Homo sapiens: one gene and its partners. The protein of the gene in region 3 purifies or fractionates together with the protein of the main gene of each other region. This does not show direct contact. Each region holds a gene or a part of one and is shown on either strand. Other genes may lie near its edges.

The links.
Region 1: the proteins of BMP7 (region 3) and UBR1 purify together in Homo sapiens (affinity purification with mass spectrometry; 3 studies listed by BioGRID and IntAct, with this or other methods). This does not show direct contact.
Region 2: the proteins of BMP7 (region 3) and VWA8 purify together in Homo sapiens (affinity purification with mass spectrometry; 3 studies listed by BioGRID and IntAct, with this or other methods). This does not show direct contact.
Region 4: the proteins of BMP7 (region 3) and CILK1 purify together in Homo sapiens (affinity purification with mass spectrometry; 2 studies listed by BioGRID and IntAct, with this or other methods). This does not show direct contact.

The regions. Positions count from the first base shown.
Region 1 is NC_000015.10:43,054,022-43,061,046, forward strand, and holds part of UBR1 (E3 ubiquitin-protein ligase UBR1), read right to left. Parts: intron 6,094-7,025; coding exon 6,031-6,093; intron 5,805-6,030; coding exon 5,681-5,804; intron 5,172-5,680; coding exon 5,064-5,171; intron 4,409-5,063; coding exon 4,320-4,408; intron 2,422-4,319; coding exon 2,323-2,421; intron 879-2,322; coding exon 721-878; intron 1-720. UniProt on the Homo sapiens protein: E3 ubiquitin-protein ligase which is a component of the N-end rule pathway. Recognizes and binds proteins bearing specific N-terminal residues that are destabilizing according to the N-end rule, leading to their ubiquitination and subsequent degradation.
Region 2 is NC_000013.11:41,951,087-41,958,111, forward strand, and holds part of VWA8 (von Willebrand factor A domain-containing protein 8 isoform a precursor), read right to left. Parts: intron 1-7,025. UniProt on the Homo sapiens protein: Exhibits ATPase activity in vitro.
Region 3 is NC_000020.11:57,263,626-57,271,022, reverse strand, and holds the start of BMP7 (bone morphogenetic protein 7 preproprotein), read left to right. Parts: upstream 1-4,381; 5' UTR 4,382-4,900; coding exon 4,901-5,318; intron 5,319-7,397. UniProt on the Homo sapiens protein: Growth factor of the TGF-beta superfamily that plays important role in various biological processes, including embryogenesis, hematopoiesis, neurogenesis and skeletal morphogenesis.
Region 4 is NC_000006.12:53,002,808-53,009,832, forward strand, and holds part of CILK1 (serine/threonine-protein kinase ICK), read right to left. Parts: intron 6,761-7,025; coding exon 6,632-6,760; intron 4,793-6,631; exon of another isoform or gene 4,682-4,792; intron 3,631-4,681; coding exon 3,508-3,630; intron 2,497-3,507; coding exon 2,342-2,496; 3' UTR 1-2,341.

The DNA of each region.
Region 1 (7,025 bases), on a different chromosome or scaffold from region 3:
ACGGAGGATCAACTGTATAGCAAAAAGGAGTTAAAAAAATGTTAACAGCCAGCCGCAGTAGCTCATGACTGTAATCCCAACACTATGGGAGGCCAAAGCAGAAGGACTGCTTGACCCCAGGAGTCCAAGTCAGCCTGGGCAACAAAAAGTGAGACTCCGTCTCTACAAAACAATAAAAAATTTGCCAGGCATGGTGGCACGTGCCTGTGGTCCCAGCTACATGGGAGGCTGAGGCAGGAGGATCACTGGAGCCCAGGAGGTTGAGGCTTCAGTGAGCCATGTTTGCATCACTGCACTCCAGCTTGGGCAACACAGCGAGACCCTGTCTCAAAAAAAAAAAGAAAGAAATTTATGTCAATAGATTGTCTGAAACTATGCACAAAGAGACTATATAGGAAGGACAGAACCAAAGTGTGTGAGTGGAAGTGAATGAAAAGTATGGTAATTACAATGGCAATGCATTTGGTGACCCCAGGAGATCCCAAGTTCCTGTAATGGGCCTCTCCTCAATACCTTCTTTACTAACCAGGTTTTACAACTCAATAAGAAGCCTTCACTGAAGACATTTATTAACGCGAGGCAGTAACAGTTCTTTGTACTTGCCATCATTATAAAGAGAATTCTGGATAACCAAAATGATCACAGGATTACTTATAAGACACAGCAAATAAGCACACTGAGTTTAACAGGTGCCCTCACCTTTTGACTTGAACAACTTACTTTAGGTCACATATTACTGCATATACTCTTCCCAATTTGTCCTGGCTATAACCCTGGAAGTTGAATTTATTGTTCCTGTCCAAGTACTCAGGTAAAACTTCTAGCAGAGTTTCAGTAATGACAGAGATAACATTCTGCTCTTCAATAAGATGTCGAGCCTGCGGAATATTTCAAGAATATTTTCTTTAGCATTAACTCATTGTGGTATGGACTTAATTTATTCATTCATTTGGTTAGTCAGTATGTCATTTTTAATAAATGTTTGTTATTGAATGTTAAACACAGTCCTTAGTTTCACTGAATAGCAACTACTAAGAAGTTATTTTCTAAAAGAAAAAATTCCCTACTCCTCAGTAACTAGACAACACCTATCTGGATACTCCAAGCCCATTAGACAGGTTATCTAGATAAATGTTTATCATCAGTAATGTGGTGGCTCATGCCTGTAATCCCAGGACTTTGGGAGGCCGAGGCAGGCGGATCACCTGAACTCAGGAGTTCGAGACTATCCTGGTCAACATGGCAAAACCCCATCTCCACAAAAAATACAAAAATTAGCCAGGTGTGGTGGCAATGCCTGTAATCTCAGTTATTCAGGAGGCTGAGGCAGGAGAATCGCTTGAACCAGGAGGCGGAGGTTGCAGTGAGCCGAGATCGTGCTACTACACCCCAGCCTGAGTGACAGAGAGAGACTTCATCTCAAAAAAAAAAATCACACAATGAGCAAGTATAACAAAGATATACTTCATGACTTCTAGCACACTACGATCTATTCTGAAATCTCCTCCTTACCCCAATCTAAACTCTCCTCTCCATCCTTTTGAAAAAGTAAAGTAGAAACAATTAACCAAGTTTGGATAACTATCTAATTCCAGACAAGAAAAGAAGTAGGGCTGGGCGCGGTGGCTCACACTTGTAATCCCAGCACTTTGGGAGGCTAAGGCTGGCAGATCACCTGAGGTCAGGAGTTTGAGACCAGCCTGGCCAACATGGTGAAACCCCGTCTCTACTAAAAATACAAAAATCAACCAGGCGTGGTGGTGCCTGCCCGTAGTCCCAGCTACTTGGGTGGCTGAGGCATGAGAATCGCTTGAACCCGGGAGGCGGAGGCTGCAGTGAGCCCAGGTCGTCCCATTGCACTCCAGCCAGGGCAACCCAGCCAAGACTCTGTCTCAAGAAACAAAAAACAAAGAAAAGAAGTGGTATACAAAGGAAGCAGAATCTTCCACTCTCCTCCCAGGCCTATGCAGCACCCTCTCTCCCAAATGCTTGACAGGCACACCCTCCCACTTCTTAGTTTTATCTTATTCTATCTGCCTACAAACAATAACTTAAAAATAAAATATTTTTGGTATTGAAAAGGCAGTGTTCATAAGTTACTCTAGAAAGTAAGAAACCAGCTCTAGGTGTCATCTGCATTGACGAGGACATCTGAACCAAGGCAGCGCCTAGTTAACTAGTCCTTGGGTAGCACTAAAGTATTCACATAGCCCAACTTAGTGATTCTAACATTGTTCTAATTTGATTCAACATTAAGTGGAATTCTTACAAAGCAAAACAAGTTTTACTTAGAAAGACTGAAAAGGAATAATCAATACATACCAGAGTAGGAACAGTAAACATCTGAACTGAAAGTGCAGTTATAGAGATACTTCTGTCATGATCATCACTGATATATTCTTTCTGCAGTTGTTTATAATACTGAAATATATAAGTAGAGAATCAATTATAAATCACTACTAAAGACCTTTAAAAAATCCCAATTTTAATAACTGCTGCAGGTTTGTTTCTATCTATAAAATGTCAAGTAATATAATTCCTATTTATTAAGGCAAGATATTATGATCAGCAAAAATATCTTAGAAGGAGAATAACAAACAACAAATCAAGTAAAAATTCACCTACTCAATTTAGCAGAGATAGAAGTGGAAACTATTAAAATATACACATAGGTTAAAAAACAAACAAACAAACAAACAAAAAACAGAGGACTGCAATGGTATAGTTTATCCTTTCTCCAAACAGAATCTGGGGCAATCTTTAGCAGCTTCCACTCTAATGGTATTGGGCAGGGAATATATTCAAAGTATTTAACAACTGATATGACCCAGAAAAACCAACCAATCAGATTGAATCCAGCCTTAAACAGAATGGATGCTGGCTGCAAATAACTTCTTTCCCATACTGGTACATAACAGCTGCAAAACAACCCTGATATACTGGGAGAACAAAAATAGGAATATACTCAGTCACATAATAGGCATCTATTATGTGTAAGGCACAAAGTTGGATACTTAACCTACTTTAAGTTAGATACTTTACCCTCCAGAATTCCTACAAAGTTTAAGGGGTAACCATGGTGTACAAAAAAAATCATCTAAGTAGGGAGATTAGCTTTTGTATAAGAAAACAAAATTTCATTTCAGATCACACATATGGTCCAATATTCTATATCTGAAGAGTTTTAGAAGAGAACATCTTGAGTTGCCATCACTGCTGAAGGATAAGACATACAACAAATGTCTTAGTTACTTTTAAGTCTGCATATAAAATCCAGGTAATGCAGGTATCTTATCCCACAGTGTCATTTGCCTACAACAATCATTATTTCTTTCTCTGCTTCCAATTCCATCTTGGGTCCTATATCTATCTTAAGTCTTACAGAATTGACTGCAACTCAAAATCAGAGGAAATCAACAAGTATGACTGGCAAGTATGATTGCCTTATATAAGGCAAAATAAAAGATTCAAAGGAGTCCTTGATCTGTATACCCTTGCAATCTAATTTGGTAGATAGACAAAAAGATACAGTAAGGTAAGAGATACACGATAGATTAATAAAACATTAAAAAGCTGTAAATTTTAGCCTTATGCTTTAGCTTCCAAAAACTAAGTAGAACTCTTGGCCACCTAATTCCTGCCCCCCACTTTAGCATACACATCTGTTCTTCTTTCCTGCTATACTTTTCAATTAGTCACTTCTATTCTTATTGTAATTTTACTAACAGGCAAATAAATGATTAGGAAGACTGAATGCATATGTGAATGTGATAACCTCCCTTTGCTCTGGGTCAGTGGGTCATTTTCCACCTATCTCTTCTCTAAGAATGCTGTTTCTATACTAGCAAATAACATTTGTGAAAATATTTATATAACGTATGAGAACGAACTTTTTTTTTTTTTTTGAGATGGGAGTCTCACTCTGTTGCCCAGACTAGAGGGCAGTGGCGCGATCTTGGCTCACTGCAACCTCTGCCTCTCAGGTTCAAGTGATTTTCCTGCCTCAGCCTCCTGAGTAGCTGGGACTACAGGCACCTGCCACCATGCCTGGCTAATTTTTGTATTTGTAGTAGAGACGGGGTTTCACCGTGTTGGCCAGGCTGGTCTCGAGCTCCTGACTTCAAATGATCCACCCACCTCAGCCTCCCAAAGTGCTGGGATTACAGGCGTGAGCCAACCCGCAGGGCCAAGAACAAACTTTTGACAAAGAAATAAATCATAACATTTAATTTTTGATTCATAATTATCCCTGTTTCTATTAATTCATTTATAAAAACTGCCTATTTCTATTTATTGATATCTAATTTATAAATAATTACCTTCACAAATTCCATAGCAAAGAGTTTTTTGTATTCCATCTCCATAAAAAAACTGCTGAAGATCAATTCATGAAGGATCTTACGGGCACCTATAGATTATTTTGGGGAGGGTGGGGGAATGAGGAGAATCACCAAGGCAAAAACCAAAAACATTCTGGCTATTAGAGTGGCAGAATATTATAAAATTACTTCACATGCAAACAGACCTCAAATAGTATTTATTGTATTAATATTTAATAACTGGAATTTAAAATACACACATATATTGCCTTTTCCCTCTTTTTCTGCACCCCTCCCACCACTTCATCTTACACTTCAATTTACTCTCTCCCAACCTTTTCATTCTTTTTCTATTTCACTGTACTTTTCCTTCTCCATGCTTTTAGCCTTTTACGTTTTGTTCTTCATTTAGATTTTTACAATGAAAATAGCATCTTTTTCGCTACTCGATAATGGCACTACTACCTGAATATATAGATACATGTATAGACACATACATATATACTCTTTTTGACTGGCTCTCACTAAATGAAAAGACTCTATAATTAAAAGACAACATCCCTGGGTTTTAACACCAAAGAATACATACTGACTGGTTAAACTTTATATTCACATGTAGTATCTTATCAATCAAGATTACAGATTTAATAACTAATTTAATAAACAAAAGATATTACAGCTCCACTTTAAGGTCATAATCTTCCTTTGCTTCCTGACAAACAGCATAAGCAAATGTCTACTTACCTTTATAAAGCTTTGCATCCCAAAGCATTAACCTGCTTATGAGACAGGGATTCTCCGAGTCAGGTTCTTCTCTAAGGCATGCTTGGCAAAAGATCTGCCTAAAGTCACCTACAAACAAAAGAGGTCACACAGTTACACAACTTGTATTCTTTTTCTTTTTAAATAGAGATGAGTCTCACTCTGTTGCCCAGGTTGGTCTTGAACTCCTGGGCTCAAGCGATCCTTCCACCTCAGCCTCTCACAGTGCTGGCATTACAGACATGAGCCCCTGTACTCAGCCATAATTTTTATTCTTATAACATTTCTCCTAAAAGTACATTTCCTATAACATGTGAAAAGAATAATATTAATCCTCCCACATTTGAGGCAAAGAATAATTCTGTCAACATCAAAGACTCAACAGCCAATAAAAAGATATTATTTGATACTATGCACTTGAAATAATATCCTAAGATATTATACATTTGAAATGCAACCCTGAAAATTAATCAAAGTGTATAAACCAAAAAAAAAAAAAAAAGAAAAACTTTATTTCATACTCAATGACATTTTAAAATTTGTGGCTATAAAACACATAGTATTTTATCAGAAACAAGAAAAACAGGAGGTATGCTTACTTGAATAGCTCATAATTTTGTTCATCCAGGAACCAAGACGCAAAGCAAATTTCTGATGAGCCATAATCTCTGAGTGTAATACTTCTACATGAAGTGGATGTTGAGAGACATTTTCTGAATGACTCTACAAATGAAGGGAACGAACCAAAAAAATAGCATTTAAAATTTGCTTTTAGTTAAGGGATTTATACTTCAAATGAAGAAATCACATAACCCTGCCAGTTCCAAATCTCTGCATCTAGGTGCCCCAAACCACTTCAACGACATCATCACTCAAATTATTCTACTTGGGCTCTTGTAATGTACATTCATCTTTAACTTCTCTTTTTCCCCCTAATTCAGAAAGTTACCTTTATATCTTCCTTTGCTTCCTGGCAAGCAGCATAAGCTCCCGCTTTAACAGCCCGACGACCCTAATTATAGACAAAAGTGAGAATTAGGTAGTGAAATGATAACCACAATCAATAAGCAATATGTAGCCCAAAGACTTAATGAGCTCTTAACTGAGCTCTAATCGCGTGTTGACTAAAAGTTGTAAGATACCGGAACAATATCTGAAAGACAGATGCAAATGTTTAACACCTTTATGAAGTATGAAAACTTTAATACCTCTAGGACAGACAGTCTATAGTTTAAGATGCTGAGTTTCTTGCCTGGCAGGAATGGCAGTTCTTTAGTTACTGCAGTGTCCTCTCTACTTATATGAAACAATGACTCAGGCTTTCTAAACTTCTGCTATGTATTTAAAATATTTTTCATGAATGAATTCACAGCTCTTCAACATGTATCCTATGATATACTTGTGGCCCATTAACGAGCGGGAAGTATAGCTGGACTACTGATTCCACCAGTCCTGGAGGCGGTCATGCAAGGTCTATGTAGGATTTCCTTGTAGCTCATTCTTTTACCCACCTGTAAAAATTCATCATTTTCTATATGTGCCATGTGAAAAAAGTCAGGAAGCACTGTCTTCCTCATTTAACCTTTACAATGACCCTATGAAGAAGGTATACCACATTTTACAGATGATAAAAAGAAAAATAAGACAGAAGTTAATTTGTCCCCCAATCAGAAAGTTAGCAAGTGACAGATTCAGAGATCCATGACAAGCATTTCATCTCCAGAGTCTGTACTTTTAACCATCCTGTAATATTCCCTCTTTAGCTGCTTAGTACATAAGCATAAGAACTATCCAAATATATTTGGACTACTAATTACACCAGTAAGGTTGCCATTACAGAAAAAAAAAAAAAAAGCACAAAAAGCCAGGCCATAAGAGATTGTTAAAAGAACAGATTGGACAAGAATAGTTACATAAACTCGAGCTCAATCAGCTTGTATGTAT
Region 2 (7,025 bases), on a different chromosome or scaffold from region 3:
TAGGTGCATAAAAGGAATAAAGCCCCAGTGGCATAAATGCCAAGAACTGGCCAGGTGCAGTGGCTCACGCCTGTAATCCTAGCACTTTGGGAGGCCAAGGCAGGCGGATCACTTGAGGTCAGGAGTTAGAGACCAGCCTGACCAACATGGTAAAACCCCGTCTCTACTAAAAATACAAAAATTAGCTGGGCGTGGTGGTACGTACCTGTAATCCCAGCTACTTGGGAGGCTGAGGCAGGAGAATCGCTTAAAGCCAGGAGGCGGAGGTTGCAGCAAGCCAAGATTACGCCACTGCACTCCAGCCTGGGCAACGGTGCGACACTCCGTCTCAAATAAATAAAAAATAAAAGCCAAGAATTCCTACATGAAATAAGCAAAAGCAGGCAAAAGTTTTCAGTAAGTTCTATACAGTTCTATTTTTTAATGTAACCTTAATTTCCGAGTGATCTTCTAAAGCCGAGGACTAAACTGAATAATCTCTCCCCGCTGTGCTCTCTCTAACAGCAAAATAGGCATGGTGATACCATTTGCATCTAGAATTTCATTTGGAAAGGGCTCAGAGACACTCCAAAAAAGTAGTCGTGCAAAACTCATCTTTCAGCACTGCCAGTTTAAAGCTAGCAAGATACCTTGAACACTAAGGCCTTAAATCATGGTACTAATAACAATAGCCAACATTTGTTGAATGCTTACTACCTTCTAAGTATTTTTTGCATTCTCAAAATAATCCTATGAGACAGAAATTTTACAAATGAGAAAATTTGTAAATCCATAACAGAGTTTTTAACAGATAAAGAAATTTATTACAGGTATGTGGTAAATTGAGAGAGGAAGATAAGGACTACACACAAAGCTAAATCCCTGCTAGGTCCAAAACTGGCAGCCAGAAAAAAGCAAGGCAAAAGATGATGAGGACCAAAATTCAAAAGCCTGCAAAGCTCCTCCATAACCCGTGCACCGCTCCCTTTTCCTCCCCTGTCCAATTAACTCTTTGTCTTCACGCAATCTATCACAGAGATTCTCAAAGCATCAACGTCACCTGGGAACTTGTAAGTCATATAAATCTTCAGGCCCCACCTCAGACCTACTGAATTAGAAACCCTAAGGTCCAGCAATCGGTGTTACAATGAGCCCTCCAGATGATCTCTAATGCATGTTTGAGATCATTTGGTCGTTTAAGTTCTAACACCCTCAAAAAACAGGTGGTCAGCAGTGCCTCATATAGTACAATCTTAGTTACTGCCAGGTATTGGTTGACTGGTCATCTCGCCCTATTTTCCTTAATGCAGGAAAGAACCTATAAATTAGCTACTTTCTACAGTAGCTTTTCTTTTAAAAGATAAGCTTGCTTACAAATATAAGTGATATTATCTACTGGCTTTTATTACAGAGTAGTTTCAAGAATTATAGTTACAGTATTTTCAAATAGGATGTCTTTACAAATGTTATTTCACTTCCTGAAAAGACTGTAATTATTTGGCCTCCTGACAAAATGATACTGAGTAATTAATCTGAACATAAGAAAAACGTTTTCAGGCACAGGTTCTCATTACAAACATTCCCTGAGTGTTAGAGCTGACCGACATCATCCTTCTAATAAATAATCTAGAAAAAGGGCAGACTATACAAATTCATGGTAACTTGACAATTGGCTGTCCATTTTTTTTTTAAAAAAAGTAAAATTCATACCTCACATTTCTGAAAGACAGTACATTCAAACTGAGTAACTGAGGAGAGTACAAAAAGGGAACTATTTACAAAGGTATAGCAGAGTTTACGGAAACCAAAAAAGATGGTGCAGTATCCTAGGACTAGCAATAACAGAAAGTCATTACCGCCCCTAGGCCTGAAGGGGCAAGGGGAGAGAGCAAGCAGAGAGGGTCACTGTGTTAGGAAGCCTCCTTCTGGGTAACACAGCAAACCCATAATGGTGACCTGGCAGGGAGGGAGCTGGGAAATAAACATGAAGCAAAAACGGACAGAACTAAAAGTGGAAATAGAAAAATGCACAATCACATCTAGATATTAATAGCTTTAAGTAGCTCTCTTGGTAAATAATGGAAGAAGTAGGAAAAAATAAAGAAGGATACAGGATAAGGATAATTTTTTCTCAGCCTTCTGGCAAAGACCAAGTATAGACGTAAAGAAAGAGAAGATTGGAAAACATTATTAATCACTTGGCCTAAATGACATTTATGGAACACTACACCCAACAACAGAATGCATATTCTATTTATTATTTATTTAAGTATTACTGCAAGTATGTTTTTATTTTCTCAACCTATCAACTGAATATTGTATTTTATAAAGCACTTTTTAGTATTGTAATTGGTTCCTCATGATCAGAATGCATATCCTTTTTAAATGCACATGGAACATTCACCAAAATAAATTATAGGCTGGACCATAAAGCAAGTCTCAAGGAATTTAAAGATGAGACCAGGCACAATGGCTGGTGCCTATAATCCCAGCACTTTGGGAGGCCGAGGTGGGTGGATCACCTGAGGCCAGGAGTTTGAGACCAGCCAGACCAACATAGTGAAACCCCATCTCTACTAAAAATACAAAATTAGCTGAGCGTGGTGGCTGGCACATGCCTGTAATCCTAGCTACTTGGGAGACTGAAGCAGGAGAATTGCTTGAACCAGGGAGGCGGAGGTTGCAGTGAGCCGAGATAGCGCCATTGCACTCCAGCCTGGGCAACAAGAGTGAAACTCTGTGTCAAAAAAAATTAAAAAAGAAAATTAAAGGATGGAAGTCATAAAGATTATGTTTTCTTACCACAGTGGAATTAAACTGGAAATCAGTAACAAAAAGGTAACTGGAAAATCCCCAAACATTTGGAAATCAAGCAACAGGCTTCTTAAAAAATCCAAAAAATAAATCACAACGGAAATTGGACTCATTGGGAAACAGGGTGGTGATCAATGAGCCACATCTGCAATAGACAAAAGGGAAAAGTTATGACATTCATATGGACCAGGCATCTGCCATCTCTGCCTCAAACATTGATGTTCTTGGCCATCTTCTGTTACTACACTACACTTTCCTCAGTCATTTAATCCATACCAATGTCCCAACTCTGACCTCTATACAACCTTTTTTTTTTTTTCAGTTAAGGGTACTCTTCAAACACCATATACAACTAATTCTTTAAATGTCTATTTTGGCTCAGATCTCTCTCCTGAGTTTCATACCTGCCAGTAGCCTACTGGAGACTTTACCTAGATATTCCAGAGACAACTCAACAAACACACAGAAACAGAATTCTATATTGTCCATTGTGTGCGCCTAACCACCTCTAACCAGCTCCACCTCTTGTATTCCTATCTCAGTGACTAACACTTTATCTCCTCAGCCTAGAAGACCTTCCACATCTCTCTCACACCACTTGCCCTCTACACAACTACTACTGAAATATCTTCATCTCCCCATTGAACCTTCCCTAACTTTTCCTCTAGCACAAATTGATCACTCCATTAGTCTTTCTGCTAGCACAGGATCTGATTTATGCTTCTGTAATGGAAATACAAATTCAAGGAGATAAGAGACATTTTCTAACAATTAAAGAAGAGCTTTTTATCTACTTCCAAAATAGAGATAGGATATTCTATTTCCACTTAAAAGATACACTCAGAATTTGTACTAAATTACTAGAATATTCTGTTTCCACTTAAAAGATACACTCAGAATTTGTAATATTTTTTCTTTTAAATGCCAATATTTACAACATACTGGAAATGTCATCGTTTGCAACTATTTAAACTTACCAGGAAAACTTTAGCTATTAACCTAAAAATGTTCAAAGGGATACATATTTTTAAAATCCTCCTAGCAGATAAATAAGAAAAATTTTTGAAGACTACTGTTTAGTCTACAGGACTCTTTTTTTCTTGGTGCAAGGCCTAAGTTTTAATCATCATTTTATCCCCAATACCTGAAACCTACCAGATATTCAATAAATGTTTGACAAATGAATAATTATAATTTTAAATTTTTTCTTAAGTATTGTTTTTAAGCTGTAATGTTTTCTCCTTTGAAAACATCCCACCTACTAATGTGCTTATAAGTCAAGCCATCTATAATGATTTAAGTGAGGTAGTTTACTCTCTAAAGGGGAATAAGAATACTTATAAGACAACAGGTAACATAATTTAGGCAAAAGAAGCAAATGTATGCCTTTCTTCATGTAAACTGTGGGTTTACTTGAACTAGACTCAAATACTATTGAAGTGTCTAAAGTGCCTGAACCTTGCTGGATTTCTGATTGGTTCAGTTCACAGGGGCTCCTGTTAAGAAGTACACTACAGTCTTTATTATTATCCTGAGATTCTTCATGATAGCCCTTCTGGTGCACCATATCCTCTCAAGTCTTAAATGTTTGTATGCAGCCATTCATTGAGCATTCAATGGTCTCACTTTGACCAGAACAGCAAGAACATAAAGAATTATTCAACTGATATGACATCATGGCTTTTAAATTCCATAATGAGACCAAGTAAGTCCATTAAGTTGGTGACAGAGAGTGGCAACAATGCCCAAAGTTTCAGTGAATCTGTCAAAATTGAGAAGCTAACCAAAGGGGCAAATTGTTAAATTCAACCAAATTTGGTCTAAGGATGCCTCCGTACTTGGAGTCCTTATGTAATGAATTGCAACATAACTTTGTATGTAAATTAACTGAAACCGGAACTTAGGAGTATACTTTGGTAACAAATAGATGAGTCTTAGCCAATCTGAGCAGCTGAGCTTGGGTCAACCACAGGCTGCCAACTGATGAGACCGTGTTCAAGTAAGGCAAACACTGAGTTATAGCCAAGTAAGCTGTTTCCGTACCTGACTTCCATTTTCTGTCCATAAATGCTGCCTGCTCACGTTTCAGAATGGAGCTCTCTGAGCTTATTCTGGTTCTGAGGACTGCCCAATTCACAAATTGTTCTGTGCTTAAATTCTGTTAAGTTTAGTGAGTCTAAAGTTTCTAACAGTAGCTTTGACAAAGAAGTTGGTTTCATGAGGGTTTTTCAACAGCGGCCCTATGAACATTTTGGGCCAGATAATTTTTTGTTGTGAGGGGCTGTCCTGTGTGTCATGGACTGTTTAGCAGCATCACTGGCCTCTACCCGCTAGATGCCAGTAGCACCCCTCCCTCCTGGTTCTGATAACCAAAAAGAAACATCTCCAGACATTGCTAAATGTCCCCTGAGGGGGAGAAATCACCTTGGGTTGAGAACTACTGGGTTAGTGTCATCATTTTTATATATACTAAACTTAGACCCAAGAGAAAACTAAATATATCAGCAATTCCCACACTAGTCTATGTGCCCCTAATGCAGATCTGCCTAATGATTTATAAGCTTACCATTGTTCTGAGCCTTTCTGTTAAATTCTTGAATACACAATGGGGTCAGAATATCCTCAGGGTCAAAATAACCTGCTGCAGGTTTAAAGTAGTTAATAATTTCCCCAAGGTTCAATACCTGATAAATACAAAACTTAGACCAAAACCACAGTATAGTTCTTTCCTCTTTACACTGTATTTCTCAGTTGAAGCCACAGTTCTATATTTCCCCTCCTCAAAGTTATTTCTATCTAATCCTATTGTAGCCCAAGGATATAATCTTAAAATAACAAAAATTCATGTAGATGGATGTTTATTGCATTGTTTATATATTTTAGACAACATGAATGTGCAAGAATGAGACAGTAAAATAAATTATATGGACAAACATATAAACTTAATAACTACTTTAAACAATCATGTACAATGATATTTATTACCATGTTAATATGTTCACAATAATGGATGTAATAATTATAAAACATACATGATCCCATTTCTTTAAAAAAATGTATCTGTATAAATATACATATCATCCAGGCACAGTGGCTCAAATCTGTAATCCCAGCACTTTGGGAGGCAAAGATGGGCAGATCACTTTAAGTCAGGAGTTCGAGACCAGCCTGGCCAACATGGTGAAACCCCATCTCTACCAAAAATACAAAAATTAGCTGGGGTGGCTCATATGGTTTGCCTGTGTCCGACCCAAATCTTGTCTTGAATTCTAGCTCCCATAATCCCCATGTGTCATGGGAGGGACCCAGTGGGAGGTAATTGAATCATGGGGGCAGGTTTTTCCTGTGCTGTTCTCGTGGTAGTGAAAAAGTCTCACGAGGTCTGATGGTTCTATAAAGGGGAGTTTCTGTACACAAGCTCTCTTACTTGCCGCTATGTAAGACGTGACTTTTCTCCTCCTTCGCCTTCCACAATGATTGTGAGGCCTACCCAGCCATGCGAAACTATTGAGTCCATGAAACCTCTTTTTCTTCATAAATTACCCAGTCTCTGGCATGTCCTTATAGCAGTGTGAGAACAGATTAATACAGTGGTGCACACCTGTAGTCCCAGCTACTTGGGAGGCTGAAGCAGGAGAATCGCTTGAACCCAGGAGGTGGAGGTTGCAGTAAGCCAAGACTGCTCCACTGCACTCCAGCCTGGGTGCCACAGCAAGACTCCATCTCAAAAATAAATAAATAAATAATTATACATATATATGTAATCTGATAGGATTAATGCTAAAAAGTTGATAATTATAAATTTGGGTGGGAGGATCATGTTTTAGGGAATCTGTACTTATCACTCTTCTATAATAAACATAGATTGCTGTGTAAAAGTATTTTAGGGTATTTCTATAAACAAATTTACTTCATATACAAGAGTCATAAAGAAAAAACTGTGAATCCCTTTAATAATAATGGCGTTAAAGGAAAGCACCAAAATGTCATGATATATTTATACAGTTATGTTTCTAGGTTTATCATTTGATCTATAGTATATTTGAATCCATTTAACATCAGAGTCCCACTGAAACAACTTGCTTGGCTCCATCTGTAAAAACACTACAATAATCTTTATTGAAAACTCTCTGCAGTAGATATCCTTGTTAACCTCTTTGCTCTTAAAACCAAGAGACAGTAATTTTAATGGAAGTATAAAGAGATATAAAGAATTTACAATTATAGATACT
Region 3 (7,397 bases):
ACAAAATTTCACCACAGGTGTGCTCTAATAATTTCCTCTGCAGGGTCCACCTCTGCACACAACGATTTTCAAGCCTGTGCAGGAGGCAGCTCTTGGCCCTCTATTCCTTGTTGGGGTTGGAGGTCCAGGTCATCTGGCCTTTGCCAGGTGGTGTGGACAGAGAGAGAGCAGCCCACTGGCTTCCTTGGCTGTGCTCCCCAGGGAGCTTCCAGGCCAGCTGAGCCTCCTCTAGGGCAGATGGATGAAGATGAGGTCCCCACCTCGCTGAACAATGTGTGTGTCAGCAGAATTCTTTTCTTCTTTTTACTGCCTTAGAGAGACATGCTGACTTGGTCAAAATCACTTCAGCAAGATGTGACTGATGATGTAGGAAATGAAAACTCCTGGCCCAGCACTGGGAGGCCAGCAGGCGAGGGGCGCGGACACTGGGACCGGGCCACCCGACACAATAACACCCCTTACAATTCCAGGCCGTCTTTCATCCAGGCAAAGGCGGCCCCAGGTGTGGAGCAGACTGGGGCAGATCAGATTACGGTCCTGGAGCCCAGTGCTGGGTGCCCTGGCCAGGGGAACCACAACTGGGGGTGTGTGGGTTGGGGGCTAGCTGCTGGGGAAATGAGATAGGACCCAGGGAAGTCCCTGGGCCCCAGCTGGCCTGCAGGGGGCCTAGGCACAATGTGAGGATTGGAATGCAGTGATGACCTTTTCATCTCTCATGTTCCCTTCCACTTCACTCTCTCTTTTGCTCTGGTACTTTTGCTCTTGCTCTCAGAGTCAGGATACATCTGCTTTTCTCTGCTTGGCCAAAAAGCAGACCATCATGAAAAGTTTTGTTGTTATTTTGTAACTCAGGAGGCTTTCCTGTTACCATATTTTCCTTTTCATCCAGATGGTAACACAATAACATTTATCAAGGGTTTTCTCTGTGTTCCAGGCACTGTGCAAAGCCCTTTCCATGAATTAAGTTCTGCAACCTCACAGCGATCCCAGAAGACAGGCGCTATCAGTCACCCCATTTTACAGATGGGGGAACTGAGGTGTAGAGAGGTTAAGTCCCTTGCCCATGGTGCACAGCTGGAAGAGACAGAGCTGGAGTGTGAATGCGGCTGGGCAGGCTCCAGTGCCCAGGCTACCTCCTCCACACAAGACTTGCCCTCGGCAATCTCAAAGCCTTTTCTGGTGGTGGGCTCAGCTCCCAAACTGGCATCGGATGCACTCCCAGCCAGATATTTCTTGCTTGCCGGTTTTCATTCATTCATTCATTCATTCATTCATTCATTCATTCGGCATTCACTGAGGGCCTGGTGCAGTCTTGGGGATGCCTCTCGGGGAGGAAACAGGGAAAAGAAAGACCCCCCCACCAAGCATGGATCACAGAAAAGATAAGGCTAAATGGGGGTTTGTGGGACTTCAGAGGAAACCTTATCTCTTGAGGTCTTGGATATGAAGAGCATGTTGTCTCTTCCTCTTGCATGAGAAAAGATGGCGTCTCAGAGGAAGGGTTGCTGGGGTGAGGGATCTGGGAGATGCCTTAGCTTGGCGCCTGCACAGTCAGCCCTCAGTCAACCGGTCTCTTTAGGTTTTGGCTGTGCTTATTACTATTCATTCAACAGGTACTAATTGAGCACCTGCTGTGTGCCAGGCTCAGAATAGGCTCAGGTGAGATGCACAAAGAAGGGTAAACTAGAATCCTTGCTTAGACACTGACGGATCAGTTGTTTCATATGTAAATTGTAGCACCAAGACCTGCTGCCCCTGCCCCCAGCCTCACCTGCTTGTGAAGATCCCTCCAAAAGATTTGAGAGTAGATAAAAAGCAGAGACTACTACTGAAGAACAGGGCTGCTTTGGCTCCTTATTATTTCAGACTTTGGAAGAAAATGACCTCCTTTTTCTCTACTGGCACTGGAGGTGGCATAGCCTGTCCCTAGCAAGCCAGCGCTGGAGGGCGTGTGCAGGGCTGGGGACCGAGCCTGGTTTCTGTTCCCTGCTCTGCAGGGCTCAAGCACTTGCTGTTCCTCCACCTGGGATGCCTTTCCCTGGAAAAGCCTGTCTCTTTCTTGTCTTTCAGGACTCAGGTCAGTGGCATCTCCTCCAAAAACTCCCCTTCCCACCCTCCATCACCTCACCCTGTTTATCTGCGCCCCCGCCCCCACTGCCTGTCACTTATTGCAGGCTGAAGTGACCCAGGCTCTCCAGTTGTACACTCTCAGATGGACCCTGGACGACTGTGGCACTCCTGCAATTTCCCCAGTCTCCCTGGGGTAGGATTCCTGCTTGCCAGGATGCCCACCTTTCCTTCTCCCTCCTGCATGTCCTCCTCTGCCTGGCTTCTGAATTGTTTCCAGAGAGAGTGATAGACAAGATCTGCCTCTCCTTCAGTCCCTGAATCTTATTTAAGGCTCTTGCTTTGCTTCCCTGGCCTGGAGGCCGGCTCCTTGATGGAGTCTGCCATGTGGGTTCGCTCATGGCCATGTCTTCCTGCCCAGCATGGTGCTTGGCCCTGGGACTGGCCACATAATATCTGGGCCAGGTGCAAAATTAGTACGGGGCAGGGGGTACTTTGTTCATAGGTGATTCAGAACCACATATGGTGACCTCAGAGTAGGAAACCAAGTGTGGGGCCCTTAAGAGCTGGGGGGCCCTGTACGACTGTCCAGGTTGCAGGCCCCACAGCTCGCCTCCTGATATCCTGTGCTCCATGCTTGTCTGTTGAAGGAAGGAGTGAATGGATGAAGAGCAGGTGGTGGGGGTGGTTTGAGGGCCTTGCCTGGTGGGTGGGTAGAGGCCCCTCCCTGGCATGGGGCTCAAGACCTGTTCCATCCCACAGCCTGGGGCCTGTGTGTAAATGGCCAGGACCTGCAGGCTGGCATTTTTCTGCTCCTTGCCTGGCCTCTGGCCTCCCCTTTCTCCACCCATGTGGCCCCTCAGGCTGCCATCTAGTCCAAAAGTCCCCAAGGGAGACCCAGAGGGCCACTTGGCCAAACTACTTCTGCTCCAGAAAACTGTAGAAGACCATAATTCTCTTCCCCAGCTCTCCTGCTCCAGGAAGGACAGCCCCAAAGTGAGGCTTAGCCAGAGCCCCTCCCAGACAAGCGCCCCCGCTTCCCCAACCTCAGCCCTTCCCAGTTCATCCCAAAGGCCCTCTGGGGACCCACTCTCTCACCCAGCCCCAGGAGGGGAAGGAGACAGGATGAACTTTTACCCCGCTGCCCTCACTGCCACTCTGGGTGCAGTAATTCCCTTGAGATCCCACACCGGCAGAGGGACCGGTGGGTTCTGAGTGGTCTGGGGACTCCCTGTGACAGCGTGCATGGCTCGGTATTGATTGAGGGATGAATGGATGAGGAGAGACAGGAGAGGAGGCCGATGGGGAGGTCTCAGGCACAGACCCTTGGAGGGGAAGAGGATGTGAAGACCAGCGGCTGGCTCCCCAGGCACTGCCACGAGGAGGGCTGATGGGAAGCCCTAGTGGTGGGGCTGGGGTGTCTGGTCTCAGGCTGAGGGGTGGCTGGAAAGATACAGGGCCCCGAAGAGGAGGAGGTGGGAAGAACCCCCCCAGCTCACACGCAGTTCACTTATTCACTCAACAAATCGTGACTGCGCAGCTACAGTGGCTACCAGGCGCTGGGTTCAAGGCACTGCGGGTACCAGAGGTGCGGAGAAGATCGCTGATCCGGGCCCCAGTGCTCTGGGTGTCTAGCGGGGGTAAGAAGGCAATAAAGAAGGCACGGAGTAACTCAAACAGCAATTCCAGACAGCAAGAGAAACTACAGGAAAGAAAACAAACGTGCGAGGGGCGAGGCGAGGAAACAACCTCAGCTTGGCAGGTCTTGGAGGTCTCTGGGAGGAGAAAGCAGCGTCTGATGGGGGCGGGAGGTGGTGAGTGGGGAGAGGTCCAGGCGGAGGGAATGGCGAGCGCAGAGACAGGCTGGCAACGGCTTCAGGGAGGCGCGGAGGGGTCAGCGTGGCTGGCTTAAAAGGATACAGGGACTGAGGGGCAAGACCGGCTCAAGGGTCACCGCTTCCAGGAAGCCTTCTATTTCCGCGCCACCTCCGCGCTCCCCCAACTTTTCCCACCGCGGTCCGCAGCCCACCCGTCCTGCTCGGGCCGCCTTCCTGGTCCGGACCGCGAGTGCCGAGAGGGCAGGGCCGGCTCCGATTCCTCCAGCCGCATCCCCGCGACGTCCCGCCAGGCTCTAGGCACCCCGTGGGCACTCAGTAAACATTTGTCGAGCGCTCTAGAGGGAATGAATGAACCCACTGGGCACAGCTGGGGGGAGGGCGGGGCCGAGGGCAGGTGGGAGGCCGCCGGCGCGGGAGGGGCCCCTCGAAGCCCGTCCTCCTCCTCCTCCTCCTCCGCCCAGGCCCCAGCGCGTACCACTCTGGCGCTCCCGAGGCGGCCTCTTGTGCGATCCAGGGCGCACAAGGCTGGGAGAGCGCCCCGGGGCCCCTGCTATCCGCGCCGGAGGTTGGAAGAGGGTGGGTTGCCGCCGCCCGAGGGCGAGAGCGCCAGAGGAGCGGGAAGAAGGAGCGCTCGCCCGCCCGCCTGCCTCCTCGCTGCCTCCCCGGCGTTGGCTCTCTGGACTCCTAGGCTTGCTGGCTGCTCCTCCCACCCGCGCCCGCCTCCTCACTCGCCTTTTCGTTCGCCGGGGCTGCTTTCCAAGCCCTGCGGTGCGCCCGGGCGAGTGCGGGGCGAGGGGCCCGGGGCCAGCACCGAGCAGGGGGCGGGGGTCCGGGCAGAGCGCGGCCGGCCGGGGAGGGGCCATGTCTGGCGCGGGCGCAGCGGGGCCCGTCTGCAGCAAGTGACCGAGCGGCGCGGACGGCCGCCTGCCCCCTCTGCCACCTGGGGCGGTGCGGGCCCGGAGCCCGGAGCCCGGGTAGCGCGTAGAGCCGGCGCGATGCACGTGCGCTCACTGCGAGCTGCGGCGCCGCACAGCTTCGTGGCGCTCTGGGCACCCCTGTTCCTGCTGCGCTCCGCCCTGGCCGACTTCAGCCTGGACAACGAGGTGCACTCGAGCTTCATCCACCGGCGCCTCCGCAGCCAGGAGCGGCGGGAGATGCAGCGCGAGATCCTCTCCATTTTGGGCTTGCCCCACCGCCCGCGCCCGCACCTCCAGGGCAAGCACAACTCGGCACCCATGTTCATGCTGGACCTGTACAACGCCATGGCGGTGGAGGAGGGCGGCGGGCCCGGCGGCCAGGGCTTCTCCTACCCCTACAAGGCCGTCTTCAGTACCCAGGGCCCCCCTCTGGCCAGCCTGCAAGATAGCCATTTCCTCACCGACGCCGACATGGTCATGAGCTTCGTCAACCTCGGTGAGTAAGGGCAGGCGAGGGTACGCGTCTCCTTTCGGGGGCACTTTGAGACTGGGAGGGAGGGAGCCGCTTCTTCTATGCAGCCCGCCCAGCTTTCCGCTCCTGGCTGAAATCGCAGTGCCTGCCCGAGGGTCTCCCACCCACAGCCCTATGACTCCCAAGCTGTGTGCGCCCCCAGGTCGGGCGCGCTGGGTTCGGTGAGCCTGTAGGGGTTACTGGGAAGGAGGGATCCTCCGAAGTCCCCTCCATGTTACGCCGCCGGCCGCATCTCTGGGGCTGGAGGCAAGGGCCGTTCAAAGCGCGGGGCTCGGTCATGTGAGCTGTCCCGGGCCGGCGCGGCTCGCGCTACCTGGATGTAAAGGGCCCTTCCCGGCGAGGCTGCCTTGCCGCCCTTCCTGGGCCCCTCTCAGCCCTGCCTGGCTCTGGCATCGCGGCCGTCGCACCCCCTTACCCTCCCTGTCAAGCCCTACCTGTCCCCTCGTGGTGCGCCCGCCTTAGCGTACCGCGCGCTCCGAGCGCCTTGGGGCCCCTCTCCGGGCCGCCGGATGCCCCATTCTCTCTTGGCTGGAGCTGGGGAAGAAACGGTGCCATTGCTAATTTTCTTTGTTTTCTTTCTTTGTTTATTTTTTTCTTTTTTCTTTTTTTTTCTTTTCTTTTCTTTTTTTTTTTTTTTGAGACGGAGTTTCACTCTTGTCGCCCAGTCTGGAGTGCAATGGCGCGATCTCTGCTCACCGCAACCTCTGCCTCCCGGGTTCAAGCGATTCTCGTGCCTCAGCCTCCCGAGTAGCTGGGATTACAGGCATGCGCCACCATGCCTGGCTAATTTTGTATTTTTAGTAGAGACAGGGTTTCTCCATGTTAGGCAGGCTGGTCTCGAACTCCCGATCTCAGGTGATCCTCCCGCCTCAGCCTCCCAAAGTGGTGCTGGGATTACAGGCGTGAGCCACTGTGCCCTGCCGCTAGTCTTCTATTTTAAGTATTTAGTGGTAGGTCCCGGGCCGGCAGAATCTATTTTCAGCATTTACCACGTGTGGCGCGCAAACCACAGGTTTTGGCGATTGGGTTGCGCGGGATCTCAGAGCTGACGCCGCGGGGGCGGCTGGGGGTCCCGGTTTCCGACTGGAGCCGCGACGACCCCGGCGACGCGAGCCTGGGGCTGCAGCGAGGGCCGGGGAGCTCCCCCTCCATATGTGCGCGCACATTCTCCAGACTTGCTCAAACTAACCCCCCGGCAGCGCCAGCGCGCTGCGGGACTGATGATCAAATATTTGGTTTCCGAGATAACACACCCCGATAGCGCTGTTTCCTGAGCCGCTTTCATTCTACTTGTGTAACTTGCTGCGAAAACCCGAACCAAGTCAAGACAGCAAACTCACGCCCACGGGCGCTGTGTCAACATGGAAATAATGATACTGAAGCCCCACGCTGGGCACCTGGGGCGTGGACTGGGGGCGCGGGGGAAGCGCAGATCCGCCTTCATGCTTCCCCCTCCTGATAAGGTCCCTGGAGTTCCCGGGAGGCCATTGTCTGTACTTAATAATAACTAAATCCAACTAGTGAACCAAGCTTCAGCGAGCAAGGGGTGGGAGGTTTAGATGCCAAAATACCTTCAAAAAAGTTTAAATTATACTAAGCAGCCAGTTAAGAAGGAAGCAGCAACATATGACCTGATTTAGAACCATCTCCAAGATGTATGAGGTGGAAAGAAGCAAGGTGCAGATGAGTGGGCTGCATGTGTGCTTGTATATCATCGTGTCCTCCTGGAGGAAGACACCAGGAACTGGAGAGAGATTTTACTGGAGGGGTAGAGAGGCGGGGGCATAGCTGGGGCTTACGGAGTGGGAGGTGGGGTCTGATTTTTCGTCGTCTGCACTTCTGTATTTGTGATTTTTTTAAAACAATGTGTATTTATTAACTATACCAAAAACTAAAGGAAAATTCCAAATACATACATATAAATAATGAACGCAGAGCTCTGTCGCCCTCCTGAAGCCTGGGGTTAGCCAGGGCCCTTTCTCTGGTGGGGGATTTATAGCATCTTCCCTTCTGTTGGGTACCCCGGACTCCCACTGAATGTGC
Region 4 (7,025 bases), on a different chromosome or scaffold from region 3:
AAGTATTAGAAAAACAATTTTATAATGTGCAATAATCAGGTAACTAGGTTTTTCAGTTAAAAAATGTAATGACCTTATATAAGCTAGATTACTGAGACTATGGTATTAAACAATCCATTTGCTCCTCTAAGGAATATTTACAATTTAAAACCTGCTTTCCAGCAAGCTGGGCCAGGTTTCACATTAATTTACTTTTCATATATAATACAGAAAATGAAAATAAATATTAACCTTATAGTAAAGGACTCATCTCTGAAAACACATGTTCTGATGCTTTAGATAACGAGTTGAGAATATAATACAGAAATGAATTCAGCTTCAAGTTGTGCTTGCATATATATTTTCTGAAGCTTTGCTGCCAGCTTGTTAACAGGAAAAGACCACCTATCACATCCACATCCATTATGTGCTTTTCTCATGCCCCTAGGGATCATGGTGCTTGGTCAAGTATATATTTGAGTCAAATTCTCCAAAGCATAAATTACTCTCCGATTTTAGGTTAGGGCCCTTTGGAAGCCATGGTTATTTGTTCAGAATGCAACATATTATTAATACACCAAGGCAATAATTTACCAAGTCATTAGGTTGAACCATATGAAAGTGTCTATATTCATTTCACCTATCATTTTAACCTATAAAAATGATCACTTGGCTGGGTGCAGTGGCTCATGCCTGTAATCCCAGTACTTTGGGAGGTGGAGGAGGGTGGATCACGAGGTCAGGAGATCGAGGCCGTCCTGGCTAACACAGTGAAACCCCGTCTCTACTAAAAATACAAAAAATTAGCTGGGCGTGGTGGCGGGCGCCTGTAGTCCCAGTTACTCAGGAGGCTTGAACCTGGGAGGCAGAGGTTGCAGAGAGCTAAGATCGCGCCACTGCACTCCAGCCTGGGTGACAGAGTGAGACTCTGTCTCAAAAAAAAAATAAAAAATAAAAGATTACTTACATATGGTTCAATTTGTCATTATCCTGGAACCAATAGAGAGTAGTTTGAGCCCTAGGAGAATATGAATCAATACACTGTTGAGATTGCATTGCGTTCACTGATGGTGACCTTCCCTCTTGCCTTTAAGGCAACCATAAGTGAGGCAAATGTACCATATAGAGATGGATGAGACTGGACCTTTTGTCTTTTTCTGTCTCCAAACTGACTTTGTCATTTTTGAAACTGCTGTAAACATTCCTCTCAATGGAACAGCCTCTGCCCAACAAATAAAGTTCTCACTCTTGAAAGAAACTACACCAGGGTTAGGAGATCAAATGTGGCATGTGACTGTGACTTTGTAGATGAGTGGAACCTCTGCCATAACTCTTTCTGCTCCCCAAATTGTCCTGAGAATTTGGCTAGGACAGAACATTAGTCATTGACTGCTCCTAGCCAGATCTGGAGAACTGAGCTAGGCACAAAATTCCATCTCAGTTACTATAATCAAAAACCTTCTGCTGCTTTGATACTTAGTTTTTTGGCCATGCATCTTGGCAGGAATGTAAGTTTGATTGACTGTGTTAACCTTCATGTTGAGAGCCTTTTGAAGCAGAAATCTCTTTTATTGGTACACATACAACTTGATTTCAAAAATGGAATAAATTAGAATATAATGGCATAGTATAATTAAGCTTGGTTTCATCTGAGATCTGCAACCACATTAAAGGGTGTCAGAAAAATTTTTTAAAATGTATTTACTTAGAGTTCTTTCATCTGGGGAACAAAAGTAAAACAAAGTGAATTATATAATATAATAGTCCTTTTAGAACAGCAGAGTGGTATCCAAAAATCAAACCAATGACCTACTAAGAAAAGCAGAGGATCACTTTTCTAACAACAGTCCAAGAAGGCCTGAAGTACCTAGTGAGCCACACTTGAAATTTCACCACTTCATAAATATCTGCACACACTGAGTAAATAACCCTCTATCACATAGCCTTAAATTGCACCCCTGTTGCAATACTGCATTAATATTATTACATTTTTCAAAATCTGTAGAAAATATTATCTGGAACCCCAAAGGAAAATCAATTAATTTTTAAAAAGTTCATTACAAAGTTGACTGTATAAAATGCTAAAACATAATCCATATATACAAAATGCTGTTGTTTAAGAAAATAATGGGACCCAGTTTTAGAATAAAATAATTTTATACAAAAAAGCCTACTGCATTCAAATCAATATTTTAAAAAAAAACTTTAAAAAAGAATATTGACATGTCTTAGTTCAGAAGAATAACTATAAAGTGTTGATTTGCTTTTATGCCCTCTGCACATCTTGCAGGTAGAACACCAGTCAGCTGAGGGAAAGTATCCTGCTTCTCCCTAGGAAGAGATTCATCACCAAGGCAGACAGTCATCGCCGAGATGCGTACTTGGAAGCCCAGTCTGTCCGGCCATGCACTGGCTGGGCGGCTGGAGGCCGTGGTATCAACCCAGGAGTGCTTCTAGGCTGGGTGTGGAAGAATGGTCGCCCAGGATGAGGTCTCATGGCCTTCAGGGAGGAATAACCTGCAATGAAAGAAAAAGGCCGGCATGACTGATATGGGGCCAATGTAAGCAAAGTACAAATAAATGCATTTTGGTGACAAAAACATGAGAAAATAAGGAGTTCAAGAGGAGCATCTTGTCTCCTACTTATAATCTTCTCTACTGCAGTTAAAGACATCGTTTTAAAGTTGTCAGGCCAAAAATAATGGCATCATTCTTGACCCCTCTTTTTTTCATATACCACATATAATTTGTCAGGATATCCTATTAGTTCTACCTTCCAAATATTTACAGAACCTGGCAACTTTTTACCAACTGAACTACTACCACGCTGGCCCAAGCTAGCATCATTTCTTACCTGGATAATTTCAACATCCTCCTAATTGGATTCCCTGCTTCCTACCTTGCCCCTACTTCAGTCTCATGACAACAGCAGCTTGAGGGAGCCTGTGGAGATGGCTGTCAGATCACCTCACTTATGGACTCAAAGCCCTCCAGGGACTCCACGTCACTCAGAATCCATGACAATGTGCTTACAGGCATCGTATCACCCCTGACCTCATCTTGCTACTCCCCCTCTCACTCCTGTCACTCCCACACTCTGGCCTCCTTGCTGCTCCTTGAATTTGCCAGGCCAGTTCTGCCTGAAAGCTCAAGCACAGAACAATCTCCTGTCTGGAAAAGCCTCACTCATACTGTATGCTTGCTCAATCACCTCCTCCAGGTCTCTACTCAACAACTCCTTTGCAGTGAGCTCTTCTTTAGCTACTCTATCTAAAATTGTAACCTGTACCCCACACTCCAACCCCCACAATCCCTACCTCCTGTCTGCTGTATTTTTCTCCTTAGCACTAAGTCAGTAAGCATCTGACTTACTATATGTTATATAGCACTTATTTAGCTTACTTATTGTCTGTAGAGTGCAAGTTTCATTTATTGGTGGATCCCAGGCCTAAAACATGCCTGGCACAAAGCAGTTGTTGAGTAACCATTTGTTGAGTAAATTCATGAATAATTTAAAATACAACTCACCAGGGGAAGGGTCTGGAATAGGTGCTAGGTGTACCCTCTGCATAGCAGAACCGATTTCTTTTTTCAGAAAGGAAGGGACATAGTTTCCAGTCAGTCCACTAGAACTTGTAGAGCTGGAACCAACTGATTTGCAAAAGCAAAAAGCTCATTATTACAAAGACATGTACCCAGGACACCAACAAGGTTAAATGACAGCACTGCAGAGCAATAACAAACTAAGTTTTTACTTTTAGGGAAAAGAGCAAATCATGATAAAAATGAGTTCAGAGCCAAGCATCCCACCATACTACCCTGTCAGAAAGACTGCGGGGGCCAAAGACAGTGCTGCTCCTGTGAGGGGCAACCAAATAGAGGGTGGGTTGGTTGTGAAATTTTTTTAAAAAAGGGAAATATGACATTTGTTCTTTATTTTCTTTTGTAAAAGTAGATTTAGACTATTCTAAAATTTGCTTTTTTCACTCCATAATATAGAATAGTTATCCTTCCATGTGAGTACATATAAATTCTAGAGTATGGCTAAACCATAATCCATTTAACCATTTTCTTATTGATCAACACACAGGTTATATTAAATTATTTAGCTGTGACAAGTAATTACACACTAAATATTCTTATCCACATCAGAAAAATTAACCATTTTTTACAATGTGAAATACCTTAACTTTTTATGTCATTTCCACTTGGGAGTGCTTTAAGGGCAGGGACTGTATGCTACTCGTCTTGGTATTCTGGGGAGGATAACAGAATGCCTTGCATATAGCAGATAATCAATTAATTTTGGATGGGTGAATGAATATAATTCTTATTATTTAGGCTTAAAGGTACACATGGAATAATGAAGACTGTTATTATTGCCCGTTATAGAAATGGAAATTCTAACCATTAAGAAAAGTCAGTAAGTAGTAGAGTTGCTCTGTTTTCACAACACAGAGCTTTTTCAGCAATTGTTTAAGGCAGAGTGGAAACACAGTCTAGAATGCCTGCGTGAGGAGTTGCGTTGGTCAGCTGGGGTGTATTTTGTACTTTGGTGAATGAAGAAACATGAAGAAAAATGGGAAGAGAATTTGAACAGGTAAGTCACAAAAGAGAAAAAACTTATAGTCAATAAACACAAGAAAAGATGATGAACCTCATTAGTAAATAGGACATGCAAGTTTAAACCACAATAGGATACCATTTCTCACTCATCAGATTAGCACAAATTTTAGTCTTGACAGTACCAAGTGGCATCAAGGATGCAGAGCAACTCCCATATCCCGCTGGAGAGCAAGTAGTTTGGCAATATCTGTGAAGTTGAAGATGAGCACACCCTTTAACCTAAAATGTTGACTCTGGCTGGGCATGGTGGCTCACACTTGTAATCCCAGCACAATGGGAGACCCAGGCGGGTGGATCACCTGAGGTCAGGAGTTCGAGACCAGCCTGGCCAACATGGTGAAACCCTGTTTCTACTAAAAATACAAAAAAAAAAAAAAATTAGCTGGGTGTGGTGGCACATGCCTGTAATCCTAGCTACTTGGGAGGCTGAGGCAGGAGAATTGCTTGAACCAGGGAGGCAGAGGTTGCAGTGAGCCGAGATCATGCCACTGCACTCCAGCCTGGGCAACAGAGCAAGACTGCGTCTTAAAATAAATAAATAAATAAAAATAAATAAATAAAATAAAATAAAATAAAATAAAATGTTGACTCCTAGTTCTCGTACCCAGAGGAATCCTCACACATGTGCATAACAATAGGGGTACAATAATCATCTCAGCACTCTTTCTAATAGCAAAAATTGCAATCAACTTATGTATTTATCAAGAAGAGAAGGCATACATAAATTATGGTCCACATAAATAATAAGTTATGGTGTTGTATAGATATATATTGTATATGTTATATAATATATGATATATATCTCTATAATTGCTACACATATATTTATTAAAATGCATGAAGCAGTGATCCAAGATTATCTTCACATAAATTTTAAAACCTGCAAAACCACACTATGAAGTTTATACAAACCTAAATAAACACTCGATCAGGCTGGCATGGGGGGAGGTAAGGGGAAGCAGGGAGGCGGGAAAGGCACAGACACTGGGCTTCATGTGTATTTGCCAAGTTCAACTTTTTTTTTTTTTTTTGAGACAGAATCTCACTCTATCACCCAGGTTGGAGTGCAGTGGCGCAATCTTGGCTCACTGCAACCTCCGCCTCCCAGGTTCAAGTGATATCCTGCCTCAGCCTCCTGAGTAGCTGGGATTACAGGCCTGCTGCCACCATGCCTGGCTAATTTTTATATTTTAGGTAGAGACAGGGTTTTACCATGTTGGCCAGGCTGGTCTCAAACTCCTGACCTCAAGTGATTCACCTGCCTCAGCCTCAGCCTCCCAAAGTGCTGGGATTACAGGCATGAGCCACCACACCTGGCCAAAGTTTGACTTCTTAAGCTGGGTGATGGCTACACAGGTGTTGCTATATTATCTCTTTCTTTTTTATTTTCCTTAAATTAAACAAACACCTAATGGATGAAGGCAGTGCACTTGGCAGTGCAGAGGGGAAAGCAGCACATGGCAGGGGCTGCCTGCATCAGGGAAAAATGATGCAGGAAACGTCTCTACTGTGAACAGGGTTTGTCAGCCTTGGGACTCAGTAAATTCATTCATCCGTTTAACAAAAAAAGTGGGGAGGGTCTTCCAAACTGTCCACCTTCCAACTAGAAGGGATCTTGATACTCTGGGCCTGCAGCTGGGTCATCAGAAGGAGGGGACAGGCTGGAACAAGGCAGACACAGCCAAGGGTGACTTCCACCTCAAGAGGAGGGTGCCTGCTGCAGCCAGGGCTTTAGCCATCAGGCCTAGTAAGAGTCTGTAAAGGTATTTTTGTTTTTCCCTTGAGCCAGGGATGACTATGCTCTACTCCCCAGCTACCCTGGAAGGCAGACTCCCCTGGGAGCTGGCTGAGTCCCAAGGGACTGCTGCCGAGAAAGAGAGGAGGATAGGGCTGGAAAAGAGGCCTGAGCTTTCAGATGACAAAGGCCCCTGTGCTTCCAAAGCCCGTCCCATGACTCCTTGTGCCCACCTTCCTGCATCCAGGGAATTTGCTTTTTGCCATTTAGGGGTTAATGATCATTACTCACCTGAATTTACTTTGCTGATTACTGACATTGTCCCTGAAGATTTTCCAGACAAGCCAGAACTAGACCATGGATTAGGTGGAATAAATTCCTTGCCTGGATTCGAGAGTATGCCATTTCTTATACTGATCCCTGATAGAGAAGAAATGATTTTAAAATGCAAAATACACAATGAATCTTACACTAGACTACAAAGATAAAATTAATGCAGAACTCAATTTGTCAAAAACTCTCTATGATACAATAATCAAAGCAAAAACTGACTGTGATGATGTCATCTGACAGATGTCCGAGGAAAGATATCTCACTGGTTGGTGGCCCGAGAGAGGCCTCTTATGCTTCTAAGATCCAATGGATCTGTCCCACCTCTTGGCCCTCTGGTGCCATCCTGGGCTTC